Linked DNA regions of Homo sapiens: region 2 is linked to region 1. Evidence: fine-mapped expression QTL. Tissue or cell type: whole blood. Region 1 holds a variant in brackets; the other region holds the start of a gene. All regions are shown on one strand. Distances are between the middles of the regions.

Region 1 (8,101 bases):
CCTGGGTGCCAGGCTGGGTTTGGAGTGGAAAAGCTTCTAGCCATTGGAAGCAGGCAGGACTGCAGGTGTGCAAGAGTGTGTGAGGGATGATACGGCCAGTGTGCTGGGTGTAACTGAAGCCACACAGAGCTTCGTGGGGGCCACGGGGAGGTAGGAGGCTGCATTTCCCTGTGAGCGAACCACTAATGGGACCACAAGACCATGTGCTGGAGACACGCAGCCACCTTCTGAGGGCAGCAAGGAGCTGAATCTGCCCAGTATAATACAAGGAAGTGCCTGAGACTCTGTGCAGCCCTACATGAGGTGACCTGGGTGTGGCCGTGTATATCTGTGTATGTGCATGGGCGCACACACATGTGAATGAGACATCAATTTGTATGTGTTCCCCTACATTTGTAAGCATTCAATGTGTGTGTCCCAGCGCCCGAGAGGGGTGGCCAGGTACACTAGGGTGGCTCTATTCCCATACCCCTCCCCCCACAGCCCTTCCATCCTTCCTTACAGCCCCATCTGCCCCTTGCACTATCTTATCCTCCCCTCCACCTCCAACAGGCCCCACTCTCTGCTCCCCACCCCCTTCAAAATGGGTGCCCCTCTGGGTCCCAGGGCTCCCTCTTCCTGCCTCCCTCCACGGCCTTGGTCCTGAGGATGATGGGAAAGACCAGATCAGTGGCCACTAGGAACTGCTGTGCGCCCTGGGACACTTCCCCTGCCCTCTCCAAGCCTGCTTCCTCCTCTGGACAAGGACAGAGCTGGAGGGATGGGGGCCAAGCTTCCACTCACTCCCAGAGCCCCTCTTGGGGCCGAGACTCCACGGGGGAGGGAGGCCCACAGCACCAGGATAGGTGAGGGGGTGATGGCAAGAAGGGCATGAAGGACAGAACCTGCCTGAGGCCCGGGATGAGAGGCCCCCTGGGAGGGTGGTGGGCGGCAGCAGCACAGACCTGGATGTCATTGTGCGGGTTCCAGTCCGAGTCGTAGATGATGACAGTGTCCGCCGTGGCCAGGTTGATGCCCAGACCACCTGCCCGGGTTGAGAGGAGGAAGCAGAACTGCTGGGCCCCGGGGGCTGAAAAAGAGAGGCCAGCAGATGGGAGTGTTTGGGGGGGTACACCTTGGGTGGGCAGAAAGGATGGGGGAGAGAACAGAGAGAAGGAACTGCAGCAACAGATCCCTGGCAGAGAAGGACAAAGCCGGAGACCCCATCAGAGACGGGTGGCCACAGCTGCACTCAGGGGAGCCAGAGGAGGCCTGCCCAAGCCCACTTAGCCCCCAGCGAGCTCTGAGCCCTAGTGCAGTGGGAGGGCACTGGAACGAGGAGGTCAATTTTCAAACCCCAGATGAGCAAAAAACAAAGTGCAAGCCGCCAGCAAGTACAAGCAGAGCCCTAGAGAGCTCAGAGTCCTTCATGTCCCCGCAGCTTCCCACCCCTGGCTTCCCTTAGCCCACCGATGCTGCCAGGGCAGCCCGGGAAAACTCAGGGGCGCAGCTCCGGGACCTGGGGTCCCACCCCACTGGGCAACCCTGTCACAGGATGGCTGGTTCTCAGCCTCTCAGGGCCCTTCAGTGACCTGGGACTGACCACAGCCCCCACTGGAGCTGCAAACAGGCCCCTGGCACACCCAGGGCTTCAGCCACTCCTGCTTCCACATGTGGCTGGGCCACGTCTAGACCCTGAAACTCTGAACTTGCTATTCCTCCTGGCTCTCTGGCACAAGTGTTTGAGAGGAATCACTGCTTTGGGCGTTTGGAGAGCGTGGCCCCAGCCCCTAAGGGCTGACGCCCCAGGGAAACAAAGCTTGTTACTATTTGCTGCAAACTTGCTACTGAAGCTTACAGCCGACTGCTTCCCACTCCAGAAGTTTCTTTTGCTACAGGAGGAACTCCACCGGCAAGACCCTCCTGACCTCCACCCTCGCCTCTCCTTCCCAGGCAGGGAAGACCAAGCATGGGTGACTCTGGGGAAAGAGCCTGATCATGTGTGGCCCAGCCCTTTCACTCTCTCCTGCCTCTGGAAGTGGCCCCAGGTAGCACGTGCATCTCTGTACCTTCTGCCACCATTCACCATACGGCAGGCTCTGTCCAACACCACTTGTAACTGGGGCTCACCTGGCGTCAATATTAGAGGCCCCGTCTGCGTTTCTCATTGTCTAACTCCATTCCCAACAGGTGTTATCTACTGGGCCCCTCAGAACTCCGATTCCATGGGAGGAATCCTTTTAACATTGGAAACTCGGACTGGCCTGCTGTCTTTAGCTGTTTGTGAGGCTGCTCAACACAACACCAGCTGGGTGACCTGGCTAAGAACCAGGCCTGGGAGAAGAGGCCAAAAAGGAGTCTCAATCAGAACCCTTGGGCAGGATGGGGGTACCATTGAATCTGTCGATTGCCTCCTGCCGGAGGCCCCCGGTGATGCCACCATCAATCCGCTCATACTTGTAGCCTTCGTACTCCAGGAAGTCCTCCAGGAGGTCCAGCATCTTGGTCATCTGCAGGGGAGACGGGCACGTGAGGAACTGCCAAGGAGCAAGGGGCCCCATGGGCCATGGGCGGGGACCCCGCCACAGGCAGGGGAGGAGAGAGCTGCCTGCTAGGTGGGGAGACAGCTGGGACCCAGGCAGGCCCAATGCAGGACTCTGGGGAAGAACAAAGCTTCCAACCTCACCCCTTGGAGCCAATCCATCCTCCTGCCTAGCCCCACAGCCACTTACCTAAATCAGGGCTCTGACATGAGCCTCCCCTGCTCCCACCACACAGAATTAAGTTCCATCTCACTGCCCTGTATTCAAGGCGCTGCAGGACGAGTGCTCCTTCACAGCCCCCAGCCATTCCAAACTACCTGACTCTCTTCCTGGAATGCCCACCCCCTTACTGCCTAGGGAACATAAACATCACCTCTGTGATGTCTTCCCTGATTTCACTCCTCCCCATAAGAAAAGAAAGGCAGTCCCTTCTGAGCTCCCATGACCCCGTATAATTCCCTTTATTCTCGAGAGAGAGTTTAGCTGGATATAAAACTATCAGCACACATTTTCCCTCAGTGCACCGGAGATTTTGCCATGGTCTCTGCCACCTGTTGTTGTTAAGAAGTCTGAGAACGATCTGGCTGCCCTTATTTTGTAGGTACTAGGTCTAAAGTACCTAGAGGTTCTAACGTGTCTACGGGTTCATTTATTTATATTTATCTTGCTTGCTATTCCAGAATGCACTCCAGATCTGAGACCTCACATTTCTCTCCAGGTCTGCAAACTCTCAACAAATCCAACTTCTTCACCATTTTTTCTGTTTCTTCTGCAACTCCAATTGGATGATTGTTGGAGCATCTCAAGGTGTCTTCCATGTTCTCCCTGTTTTATCTTTGTCTCTGTACATTGCATTCTGGGAAAATGCCTCAGCACCAGGTTCCAATTTATCAATGTTCTCTTCAACAGTGTTCAGAGTCTGTCCAGTCTGTTGAAATGTTTTATCTCAATTTCATGCATGTTTCTATCCAATTGTTCCTATTTCAGTTCTTCCTGCTTTTGCTTAATTTCTTCTTTATTTTAGGGTGTCAATTACTCCATCATTTTTGAGGATCCTAAACACATCTATGTAAAGTCTTTTCAGGCTATCCTATTCTTTTCTCTCTCTCTCTCTCTCTCTCTCTCTCTCAAGAGACAGGGTCTTGCTCTGTCACTCAGACTGGAGTGAAGTGACAAGATCACAGCTCACTGCAACCCTGAACTCCTGGGCTCAAGCAATCCTCCTGCCTCAACCTCCCAAGTC[G/A]CTGAGATTACAGGGTGAGCCACTGCGCCCAGCCCCTATTTTCTTATTTGGATTCTATTTATTGTTTTGGGGGATGTCTCAGCATTCACTTTTGTATGGGTTTGGAATTGGGGTTCATAGGCTCATTTTGGGCAGGAGGGCCCCGTCTCTGTCGCTTGCCCTGTGTGCACATTTCTGGAAGCTGTGTGGTTCCCATTACTTGGTATCTCAAGGCCTCTGATCAGACTTGCGTCTCGTGTTGGTACCGAGGTACTGGGGGGATGTGGGTCCATCTCCACTCCAGCCCACTCCTTGGCTCAGCCCCTGGTCTCAAACTTGCCCTGCTTTCCAGTATTCTTCGGGCTGAAGCAGCCCAGCAGGGTGACCTGGGGCTGCAGGCGGCGGACGCTGCTTTCAGTTGATGTTTGTGCACAAGGAGCCATAGCCCAGACTCTGGGTTTGAGCAAGGGGCCTGGCTCAGTGGGCCCACGAGAGGAGCATTTTTAGCCCCATGACCCTGTAGGATCATCACTGTGGCCTCCAACACAGAGCTGACCACAGGGTCGGGTACCTGTCCCTTGAGCTGTCTCCCACAGTAGACTGAGCAGCTTGAGGACAGGGACTAGATCACTGGTCCCTGCACCCATGTGCCAGCACAGAGCCTGACTATGACAGACGCAAACAAAGGGATGGAGGAAGAAATGAACACACCTGAGCCGGCGGCCCTGCCTCCAAGCCAAAAAGCCAGGTGCCAGTGGCCCCTCAGGGCCTATTGGAGAGAGGGGCTCCTCCCAACCACACCCCAGGGCCCTACCTTAATGAGAAGCCAGGCTGCGGGGGAGAGGGCCAGGGCAGGGGAGGAGGGGCTGTCCTACCAGCCTGGACATGCAGACCAGAAGGGCAGGTGTGGGGAGATGTTGCTCTTTATGGCAAATGTGTTCTGAGCTCCTCAGCCGCATTATGCCAGGGCACGGGGGAGTGACCCCTGACACACAGTCACATGACCCACATGGGAACGGCACTGGGCCCTGAGGGGTGCCAGCAAGTTTGCGCCCCCAAGCATCAGGGCAGGATGCTCTCTGTGGGGTGTGGAGCCGGGGCGGGGGTGGGCAGGGGCAGCGCACCTGGGAGAAGATGAGCACACGGTGCCCCTCATCCCGCAGTTTCTTCAGCATCTTCTGTAGCAGCATGAGCTTCCCTGAAGACTTGACCAGGGAGCTTCCATCGTAGGAGCCATTGGGCAAGACAGGGGCCTCCTGCAGACACAGCAGGAGGTGGGGCATTGGTGGGCTCCCCTCTCCTCTCTGACTCTGCACCAAAGGGGCCGCAGGGAACAGACAAGTGCTGAGCAATGGGGTGATGGCCTGTCTGCCCACTGAACATGAGACCCACACCCGAGCCAGGCCAGGCCCCACAGTGCGGGGTAGACCGTGGGTCCCACGGCCCTGGCTCCAGGCCCCCCGTTCCCAGGCAGGGCTCACAGCCGCACCAGCCCTACCACAGCAGCGGGTTCCACGGTAAGTTCCCCAGCACCTACCAGAGTGGCCACAGGCAACCTTCCATGATGGCCAGGGAAACCTACCATGACAGCCACAGAAATCGCCACAATGGCCAGGAGAACCTATCACAGCGGCCACAGGGACCTACCATGGCGGCCACAGGCACCTACCATGGCGGTCATGGAGAAGCTGCCATGATGGCCGGGGAAACCTACCACGGCAGCCACAGGGAAGAGGTAGGGGTGGTTGCAGCACTTTTTCAGGTCCATCATGATGTTGAGCAGCGATACTTGGTTCCCGCCCCCCTTGGAGTTCAGTGCCTCAAAGTTCCGTGTGAGGATGAACTTGTAGTACTTCCTGCAGCAGGGCACGAGGAAAGGCAGGCTGGGTCAGACCCGCCTCCATGAGGGCTCTCTCTGCTCTGCAGTGGGGCTGGAAGCTGGTGGCCAAGCACCCATTTACAGAGAGACCCAAGGGACCCCCAAGAGGTGAAGCCACCGGCCTGGAGTCCCCCTGCAAGTGACTGGGGGACACTGCCAGCACTCAAGCGACCCAAACTCTGGTCACTAAAACCTGAGAAGAGGCCCCACGAAGAAAGTGTATGCAAAGCATTAGCCGAGACCTCAGTGAGGCTGAAGAGCCCTCCGCCCACCTGGGAATCGACCCAGGAGACCAGCCCAGGGGAAAGGGCGAGCACAGGCTGCTCCGGGGTCAGCCCATCACTCACTTCTGCATCTGGCTCAGCTCCACCCGGACAATGAGCTCGGTCTTGGCCGGCATGTTCTTGAACACGTCAGCCTTGAGCCGCCTGAGCATGTGCGGCCCCAGCAGGTCATGCAGCTTCTTGATCTGGTCTTCCTTGGAGATGTCAGCAAACTCCTCCAGGAAGCCCTCCAGGTTGCTGCAACAAAAAGCTGGGATAACAGCCAGGAGCAGAGGACCGGGGCAGGGGAGGCAGGGTGCAGAGCGCCTAGCCCATGTAGGCCGGCTAGCTGGTGAACCAGGGAGCCCTGGCATTGCCCTGGATATCGTCTCAATTTCTGTCTAAGCCTGTGTCACCTCCACACATCACAGCCCTCTTTTCCTCAGCCACACTGGACACCTTTCCATCCTCAAAACCGTCCTGGACAGGAGCTCTCTATTACCCAGATAACAGATGAGGAAACTGACTCTGATGAGTGCCCGAGTTGATACAGTCCAGCTGTGCCAAAACCGGCCCTCAAATCTACATCTCCTGGTGGCTCATGCCTGTAATCCCAACACTTTGGGAGGCCGAGACGGGCAGATCACCCGTCGGGAGTTCAAGACCAGCCTGGCCAATATGATGAAACCCCAACTCTACTAAAGATATACAAAAATTAGCCGGGCGTGGTGACACATGCCTGTAATCCCAGCTACTCAGGAGGCTGAGGCAGGAGAATCACTTGAACCCAGGAGGCGGAGGTTGCAGTGAACTGAGATCAAGCCACTGCACTCTGGCCTGGGTGACAGAGTGAGACTCTTTCTTTTAATAAAAAAAAACAACAAAAAAAAAAAACACTGCATCTCCTGATTCCAAAATCGACACTGTGCACCCTGAACCCCCCATTCTGAGCAGGCAAGTGGAGGTAGGTGAAGATGAGGGGGATGGGGCGGTGGGCTCCGGCCACCGGGGAGCTTGCCTCTGCCTCCACCACGGTTGCCTATGTGAGTCACTTGGGTCTCAGTGGAGGGAAAGGAACCTGCCAGGGGAGGCAGTCCAGGAGGAACCCCGGGTGGTCTAGGGCAGAGCTAAGGAAAAGTCGTGGTATTAGCAGCAGTTGATATTTACCAAACATTCCCATGTGCCCACGCCACCCACCCCAACACCCTGCTCCTGCAGGAGGTCAAAGCGGGGACATTGCTAATGCTCCCATTTTACTGATGAGGAAGCAACGGCCGAGCAGGTCTCACAGCCAGGATGGGCTATTGATCCGTCTTCACTGGGGCCACCCAGCCCCACCACCACCTCCCTAGCCAGATCCAGGTGACTCACTTGAACCTCTCTGGAGTCAGGAAGTTGAGGAGATGGAACAGCTCCTCCAGGTTGTTCTGAAGGGGGGTCCCTGTCAGCAGCAGCTTGTAATCAATCTTGTAGCTGTTTAAGACCCTAAAAAACTGAGGGGAGGAGAGTGGGGCCTGTCAGGGGGCTCTGGGCGGCCCCTCGCCCCGGGAAGCTCTGGGGTCTGGCGGCCAGCGCCACCTACCTTGGACTGGTTGTTCTTGAGGCGGTGGGCCTCATCTACCACCAGGCAGGCCCACTCGATGGAGCCCAGGATGGCCTGGTCAATGGTGATGAGCTCATAGGAGGTGAGCAGCACGTGGAATTTGATCTGCACTTCTTTCTGGAGAAAAGAGGGGCATTGGGGATGAGACGGCTGGGAGCAGAGCGGATCACAGTCCCAGGAGACAAAGAGCCAAGAAGGAGGTGTGCACAGGAACCCACAAAGGCTCCACGGAGCCCTGGGCCGGCCAGCCTAGGACCAGAGGGGCAGATGCTGACCACCAAGCAGAGGGGCATCCACTGAGGCTCAGAACACAGCCCTGAGAGAGGGTGGTGTGGAGGAGGAGAAGAAACGGCCTCGGCTTGTAACAGCTCCAGTGAGACAGTGTCTTACTCCCACCCCCCAGCGTGGAGTACAGTGGCACGATCACCACTCACTTGCAGCCTCCACCTCCCAGGCTCAAGCAATCCTCCCATCTCAGCCTCCCGAGTAGCTGGGACTACAGGCATGCCTTACCACACCCAGCTAATTTTTGTATTTTTGTAGAGACAGGGTTTCACCATGTTGCTGAAGCTGGTCTCAAACTTCTGAACTCAAGTGAACCGCCCACCTCGA
Region 2 (8,101 bases), 47 kb after region 1:
CCCACCCAGGCTCCTACTCCCCTGAGCTTACTGGCTAAGGATGCAAGTATCAGAAGCATTTCCTTGGAGAAGGCAGGACAGCTGCCCTCCTTGGCTGGTGCTAACTACACCAGCCACAGTTTATTGAGCACCTATCATGTGCTGGGCACTGTGGCCTAATGTTCCACATGCACTGTCTCACTGTTCCTCATAATAACCCTCTATGAGGTAGCCAGTGCTATGTCCCCATACTACAAGTGGGCACACCGAGGAGAGGGCTGCCTGGCTTGTCCAAGACCACTCAGCTAATGCTCAGAGCTAGAAGCCAAGGCCTCATCCCACCAGCTCTTGACCCCTGGCTTCAACCAGCCACCCCAACTCCCAGGAGAATCTGGCAACTGCTGGTCCCCCAACCAGAAGAGGCACCCGCCCTGCCTTCCTCCTAGAAGCTGGCTCAGACACCTGCCTCAATGCCAGAGCTGGCCAGGGCAAACCTCCCCCTCCCCACCATCACTGCACGGGAAACAATAATTCACTGCTGAGAGTGAGCAACTCCCAGGGGGAGGTGGGAGATGAGCAGAGTCAAAGAAAAAAGATCGGACAAGTCATGAGTTTAATAGCCGTAGACTGAAAAATCATCATGACAGCTTCCAAAACACTAGCTCCTCCAGCCACAAACTTCCATCTTTTGGAACCAGCTGGTTCTGGTCTTTGGGGGTCACCGCCACTGAGCTTGGACTCAGGGCTGCATAGGGGCTATGAGGAAGAGCTCAGGGTGAGTGGGGGGCCAGCAGTGCGACTTGACAGGAGGCCTGGCTAGGGCTGTCTTCACAGCCAGAAGCTGGGGTGACCTAGAGAGTCCCAGCCCTCAGACACTGAAACCACAACCATCTCTCAGGAACGCATGGTTTCAGGTGCTGGGCATGGCAGGTTATCGAGAGTTACATTCGAAGGGGAACCCACAGATCCAGGAGGAAACTGATGACAACGTTTCGAGTATGTGAGGTGTGGTGACACAAGCATGTAGTCCCAGCTACTAGGGAGGTTGAGGCAGGAGGATCGCTTGAGCACAGGAGTTCAAATCCAGCTTGGGCAACACAGCAAGACCCCATCTCTTCCAAAGAAAGCATGACAATGTGTCTCAGAGTGACTGGAAGGCCCTTAGCAAGGGTGTCCCTCCCCATCATAACATTCGAGCTGGGACCTAAATGACCAGGAGGCAGCGGTGAGCAGAGGAAAGAGCAGGTCAGGCAGAGGTCACAGCCAGGGCCCCATGGCAGGATGGAGCGTGGAGCGTGGAGTGTTCCAGAAGCAGCAAGGAGGCCAGCGTGGCTGCTGTGAACAAAGGGGTACAGGAGTGGACCCGGGACAAGGGTTTCAGAGGCGACTGGAGCCATGCGGGTCGGGATCTGACTTGGGTTCACGAGGTGACCCCAGCTGCTGTGCAGTGGGTGGTCAGAAGGAGTGGGTAGAAGGCCCTGGAGGGGACCGGCAGGAGGGGACAGAGGCTTGGACCCAGAACATGGAGAGAAGCCAGGAGCCTGGAAAGGCTCTGGAGGTGGAGCAGCTGGCCTTGCTGATGGATGGGGACAGAATCCCCAGGCCAGAGGTGCCAGAGCAGGGCGTCTCTTCTGCAGGGCTCTGGGGGCACTCCTGGAGGCTCTGGGGCCAACCCACCGAGGGGGAGCACGGGTGGTGGGCAGGATGACCAGAGCCCCGCCTCTCTGGCCCAAGCAGTGAGTCGGGTGCCTACTAGACTGGGGGCACCTTCCCTGGCCTCTTCCCCTCCCCAACCTCTAAGTCCCCACATAGTCAGAGAGAGCCGGAGTGTAAGATGGGAAAGACAGCCAGGGGACTCCACCAGCGGGTCGGTGCAACCCCAGAAATGCCACTGATCCCACAAAAGGGCCACACCCCAAACACCATAACAAACAACTTGCTGAGAAAACCAGTAAACTGGCTTACTGGGGAGCCAGCCTCCTAGGTGGAAAATGGCCACTGATTTTTTTTTGTGCCTGTGCGGGGCCTCAGAGTTCCCCTCCGGAGAATGGGTCTAATTCCAAGGACCCAGGATATGACAGTCAACTATTGTCCAGGCAACTCCACCCCAAGAGAGGACTCCCCTATTCCCCGTCCCCAGCACGCTCGCTGCCAACTTGGCCTGTCTAACAGGCGAGGTGAGTGCCGGGCTCCTGTAGGAGCTCAGTGACAGCATTAAAGCCACCAACTAACCAAGCAAGCAAACAGAAGGGGGCAGGGGGTGTGGCCACCTGGTGGGAATACCCTCCCCAGAAGACGCTGGCTGCTTCCTCCAACAGGAGCTGGAGGTGTCCATTTGTGGAGTCTTCTCACCCCTGGAAGTCAGAAGGGGCCAGATGCACGTTCCTGGGCCCGGGAGGGCCTCCAGCCTCCCACAAGTCTCTCCGAAGTCCAGAGAGGCCACAGACTTGGCGCAGGGAAGCCGAGAAGTAAGAGTCTCCCAGAAAGGAGGGAGGGTGGCTGACAGGGTGGGGCCCTACCCAGCTGTGCCAGGAGGGAAAACGTCCCAAACAAATGGTGAGCAGTTAACTAAAGAACTGTCCCGCAAGGCAACCCCTGGCGCACAGCCCTGTGTATACTAAATTCTGAGAGAGATAAAAGGAGAGAGATGGTAGGGGCAGGGGCGGTGGCCCTGGGGCGTCAGGCCCGTAGCCAAGGCAGGGTGGGCTGGGAACGGCCACCACCCTGGGCGATGGTGAGGCTGGAGACAGCGGCGGGCGCTAGGTCGCGCCAGAAGGACGCCGGCGGCCCGGGTAAAGTGCTTGGGAGCGGCGGTCACAGCGCACAGAGGCCAGGAAAGAGGAGCAGGGGTCCGAGCCCGTGCGTCCCAGAGCGGAGTCCTCCTGGGCCGGGAGGGAAGCCGCCCCATCCTGGGCGCTCAACGCGTCCCCAAGCACCGCCGGTCCTCGCCCCTCTCTGGGCCCCACCCAGCCCGCCCCGCGGCCGACATGGGCCAGGGGCCGGGTCCCGCCTGCCCGCAGCGAGGCCAGAGGCGCACGGCGGCGGGACGCGAGCGCGGGGTGCGCCGCTCCGGGAGCTAGCGCGATTCCCGCCCCCTTCAAGGGCACGCGGGCTGACCCTGACAGCGCCGCGCCCCCCAGCGCAGGCCCCGGCCCGCGGTCCTCTGGCCCGCCTGGCCCGCGTCGCCGCCCGGGGGGCCCGGATCGCACCCCGCCCTTAGCCGCCCTCACGCCGGCCCGGGCGCTCACCCAGCCTTCGCCCTTGGCCGCGCGGCGCCAGCAGGGCGGGAGCGCAGCCCCGCAACCCGGGTGCCCCTCCTGCGAGGCGCCAGCCCGGCCGCGCCGCCCCCGCCGCCCGCGCTCCGCCCTGGGCCCGGCCCGTCTCGGCGCCCCCGCCGCTCTGGCCCCAGGCGCACCCGCGCCCCGCTCACCTGACATCTCGTCCTCATTCTCCATCTCCTCGGCGAACAGCCGCGGCAGCTCCTCCTCGGTGCCCACTGGGCCCCGCATGCCCGGCGCGGGGAGGAGGGGAGGTGGGCGCCCCCCCTCCCGCCGGGCGCGGTGCCAGCCTTAACCCGTGCGCTGCCGGACCGGCGCGCGCGGCGGGCGAGGCGGCCTCGGCGAGAAGATGGCGGCCGCCTGCCCCCCCACCCCCCCAAACCTCCACCCCCCCGTCTCGACCCCCCTTTCTCTCGGCCGCCTTAGCCTGCTCCCCGCAAAGCCCGGGCGCTCCTCCCACCGCGCCCCGCAGCCCGAGTCCCGCAGCCGGCCGAGGGTGGCGGCGGCAGCGCCAGAGGCACGGCGGCACGGCGGGGGGGCGGCACACATGCCCGGATTGTGACGTCCAGTCTGGTTGCTGTGGCAACCCCATCCCATCGTTCCGGCAGCGCGACTAGTTAACAGCAGAGAACAAGTTGGGGGACTAGTCCTGAGCCGCCGGGTGAGGGTGGGGACCGGGGGGCGCCCCGGCAGGGGGAGCCGTCGAGGCGTCCGCGCGCCCGCGGACCCGACGGCCGAGCGGGCAGTCGGGGCTTGGCGAGCCCGGGCGCAGGGGGAGGCGAGGAAACACCGCCCCCGCGCACCCCGGGCAGAGCCAGCCGCCGCCGCTCGCCTGCGAAGGCGCTGGGCCCCGAGCCCCCAAGGGCGCGGAGGCAGGGTCTTCAGGGCAGCGCGCGGCCCGCTCCCCCACTCGGTTCACAGGCGCCGGGACCCACCCCGCTCCCGGCTCCGGCCTCGGCACGTTCCTAACCCCCTCTCCAAAGAGGATTAGAAGAAAAATGTGTTCCACACTTGGGGAAAAGACGCTCTGGAGACTGTGGGTCTGATTTACAGCAGAAAAATCCGCGCAGGCGGGCTCCCCTCACCTGCTTCCCCGCTCCCACCGCCCACGTGCCCCCTTCCAAAAAGCCCCTCCAGGCTGGGTGCAGCTGAAACCCATGCAGACCCCTAGGGGTGGTGCGGATCTGCGATGTCTGTGCCCAAAACTCCCGCTCAGAAGCGACACCTGTCGCAGAGCAGGAAGGAGCCGCCGCCACCAGCCCTCGGTCGTTAAAGGTGAAGATGGAGGCCAAAGCCCTCGGGAGCAAGACTGGAATTTTAAATGAGCGCCTCCAGTCTCCGCGGCGGCAAGTCTTAAAGCTACCTTAAGAACGCAAAAGTTCCAGGGGCTGGCCGACCGCCAGCTCTCTAACCCCAGAAGGCCCGTGAAGGGAGGGCCCCCTCTCACTGCCTCGCAGGGGCACTGGGGGAACCCACCTGAGACACGCAGGATCGGCAGCAGTTTCCCTTCTTCCCGTTCAATTTTATTGCCAGCAAACCCCAAACAAAAGACCCTCTGCATTCATCCCTGGGCAAGGAGAGGTCGGTCCAGCCTTCTGGAACCAAAGACTGGGGTGTTGGGAACCCCTCCATCTCCCAGATCCGCTTTAACTACGCTGTAGATAGAGAAGCCGGGTCAGCCCAGTGCTGGCCGCCTGCAAGGGGAAAGGAACACTCTTCAGGGAAGCAGGCCAGGAAACCAAAGGGCCTCCCCTCCCAAGGCCGTGTTTCCCCACAGAGCAGCTAGCCAGGGGGAGCCCCAGATCACCGAGGCTTGAACCAAACCTGCCTCTTCCTCGTTCTTTCCAGACCAACTGCCTCCATGAATGGTGACCAACAAGGGAAGAAAGCCCTAAGCTGACACGCCCACCCCTCAGTTACCAGCCCCCCAACACCTCTCTAATCCCTTTCAAAGGTCCCCTGCCCTTCGGTAGAAAAACTCTGATTTACAATACTTCTCATCACCAGAAAGCCGCCCCCATCATTAACCCTGGCTCCAATTCCCAAGGCGAGGCTGAAAGTCAAGATATCGTTCAAGAAAGAACAGTTCTAACTGCTTAATCTGGCAACAAATTAGAGCCGAGATGCTCATCAGTCATAATCCTCTCCCCATCCTGTTCTTCCCGATGACTGCAACTAGGTAATATTATTTAATGTCCAAAAGCAAAATGAAACAAAAACTGGAATGCTAGAAACAAATGGATTTTTTTACTACAAATCTCCAGGTTTTTTGGGTTTTTTTTTTCAAGGGGGGGAGTTGAGATGGTGTCTGTCGTCAGGCTGGGGTGCAGTGGCGCAATCTCAGCTCACTGCAAATCTCCGCCTCCCGGGTTCAAGCGATTCCCCTGCCTCAGCCTCCCCAGTAGCAGCTGGGACTACAGGCGCGCACCACCACACCTGGCTAATTTTTTGTATTTTGGTAGAGACAGAGTTTCACCCTGTTGGCCAGGATGATCTCAATCTCCTGACCTCGTGATCCGCCTGCCTCGGCCTCCCAAAGTGCTGGGATTACAGGCGTGAGCCACCATGCCCGGCTCTCCAGTCATTTTTAAAGGTGAGCCCTTATTATTGTTAAACTATTAAATGGGTATTTTAATGACAACGGACCAAAAATGCATGACGTTAAAAGCAATCCCTGAAACTTGCAACTCTGCGTTGCAAGAACAAGCCTATCATTAAGGTTACTGTTTTAGGAGACAAGATTCTCATGTTTGCTGATCATAGAGCTCATAATTACACCTCAGTGACAATTCCAAAATCAAAATATTTTTTAATATACCGGTTACAAAAGCATCAAGGAAAAAACTTTTTTCGGCTGGGTGCAGTGGCTCACACTTGTAATCCCAGAACTTTGGGATGCCGAGGCGGGCAGTCATGGATCACCTGAGGTCAGGAGTTCGAGACCAGCCTGGCCAACATGGAGAAACCCCATCTCTACTAAAAATACAAAAATTAGCCGGGCATGGTGGCGGGCGCCTGTAATCCCAGCTGCTCGGGCGAGTGAGGCAGGAGATTCGCTTCAACCCAGGAGGCAGAGGTTGCAGTGAGCCAAGATTGCGCCACTGCACTCCAGCCTGGGTGACAGAGCGAGACTGTCTCAAAAATAGAAAAAAAAAAAACTTTTTCCAAGAACAGAGTGGAAAAAGCTCATCGTCTTCTGCACATACCATACTCAATTTCCATTCCAGGACTAAATGAACTCCTCATCCAGGAACCCCCAAGGCCTGCCTGAGGCCATTTCGTTCAACAATGCATATCCACGCTGTGGCCACCTGGCACCACCAGCTTCTCAAGGGCAATGAAGTGCTTGTACATACACCACCTCACAGCGAGTCACATAGATCAAAACTCTGCCCCACACCTCCTCCTCGGCAGGGGTGAAACGGCGTCACTCAGGACCGCAGTGTCCTCTGCAATGAAGGCTCAGTGCCCACCTGCTGCACCAAGACTTTCGTTGCACTTGAAGGCTTTTTCCGAAAGTGTGGACCCTGCACCACCTGAATTCAAATCAGTTGGGGTTGCAGGGGAGGAAGGAGCTTCTCAAAAAGGCAGCCCTGGGCCATGGCCCTGAACCTGAGAAAATCCTTGTGTAAGCCTGAGAACGTTTTATGGGTGTTCTCTGGGTTCTAGCTATGGTGGCAGCTAACTCACTCCGCTGGTCAGCACAGCCTTTACAGACTGTTTTAGCTGGGCCCAAAATAGCCTGGGGGAAAAAAAAGAATGTGTATTCTCAAATCCATCCCAAAGACAAGAAAATGGCTGGATGAGAAATTCAGTTTCCTGTTCCTAGAGATAAGCACTATGATTGCACCGTTTAACAGGCAGTCCTCACCTCCTTCCTGTAGGTGGAGGGCTACCTCCTTGCAGGGATGGCAAATCCCCACACCAAGCCTCTCTTCTACCCTCTTCTCCCTCAAAGAGAATCAACCCCACAGTTTATTCCACTAAATACAGGCCCATCACCACGACTCAGCGAACAACCTGGGCAGGTGCCAACCCAGGCTCTCCTTCAGGGACCTGGCCCATCTCTCACCGCCGTGGTGCCCCTACCCTGCAGCTTCTGACTCGTCACCCCAGTATTCTGTCCAAGGGTTACTGGGGAGATGGTCTGTCCCCTGGAACTGCCAGATCTGTAACTGTCCCACATCCTAGGTCCCCCTCTCCTGTGGGAGGTCTTGGTTTACAATACTTGACAAGTTTAAGGGTCTGAGTCCCATGTACAAATGGAAAGTGAAATCAGGTGTCAACACCAAATTCCAGGCTCCCCTGACATCAATGACTTCAACAGCCGGACCATTATTCCCCATCACCAGGGTCCTTATCACCCTCCAGGAAATCAAGTGTCCCCTAAAAAGGCTGAGCTCTAGATAGCCCCAGATATCAACTGTCTTAAGACACTTGGTATTATCCAACTTCCTCACTTTCCCCGTGTTTCTGACCACCTCTGTGCTACACACCATTCATGAGCAAAGTTAGGACCCACGTATTTCAACACCTGGCTGCTCCTGAAAATGTATGAGGACAACAGTCCTCAAAACCCAAACACTTCACCACTGGAAGTGCCATGGGAAAAGGGGGATCAGAGGCTTTTTGGAGGGAAAACATGAAGCCTTTAGAAGTGACTAGTTCGTAGCACTTAGTGACATCAACAAACCTCATTTCCTCAGCTGTACCAGCACACTCGAGGGAAGGGCGTGAAGGTGTTGTGTAACTGGCATTGGCTGAGACGAGACCAACCTCCTGTTTCCGGACTCTTATGAACTTAAATCACGGCTTGAAACTCTCCACGACCCCAGTCAGCCCCT

What was found. PIP is the estimated chance that this variant, and not a neighbour inherited with it, causes the effect.
Region 2: CHD5 starts here. The variant in region 1 is fine-mapped to the expression of CHD5 in whole blood (TOPMed, PIP above 0.99).

What each region holds. Positions count from the first base shown.
Region 1 is chr1:6,129,260-6,137,360 of GRCh38, forward strand. It overlaps CHD5 (chromodomain helicase DNA binding protein 5), which reads right to left. Exons shown (of 42, transcript NM_015557.3): 16 at 7,469-7,606; 17 at 7,258-7,379; 18 at 5,971-6,144; 19 at 5,459-5,600; 20 at 4,869-5,000; 21 at 2,372-2,489; 22 at 945-1,069. Among named protein-coding and RNA genes, the nearest start is that of CHD5, 47 kb to the right of the region's middle. The variant G/A (reference allele first, on the strand shown) is at 3,766.
Region 2 is chr1:6,176,536-6,184,636 of GRCh38, forward strand. CHD5 (chromodomain helicase DNA binding protein 5) reads right to left here and starts at 3,786. Exons shown (of 42, transcript NM_015557.3): 1 at 3,410-3,786. The coding sequence starts at 3,488. RefSeq lists enhancers at 2,042-2,543, 2,544-3,043.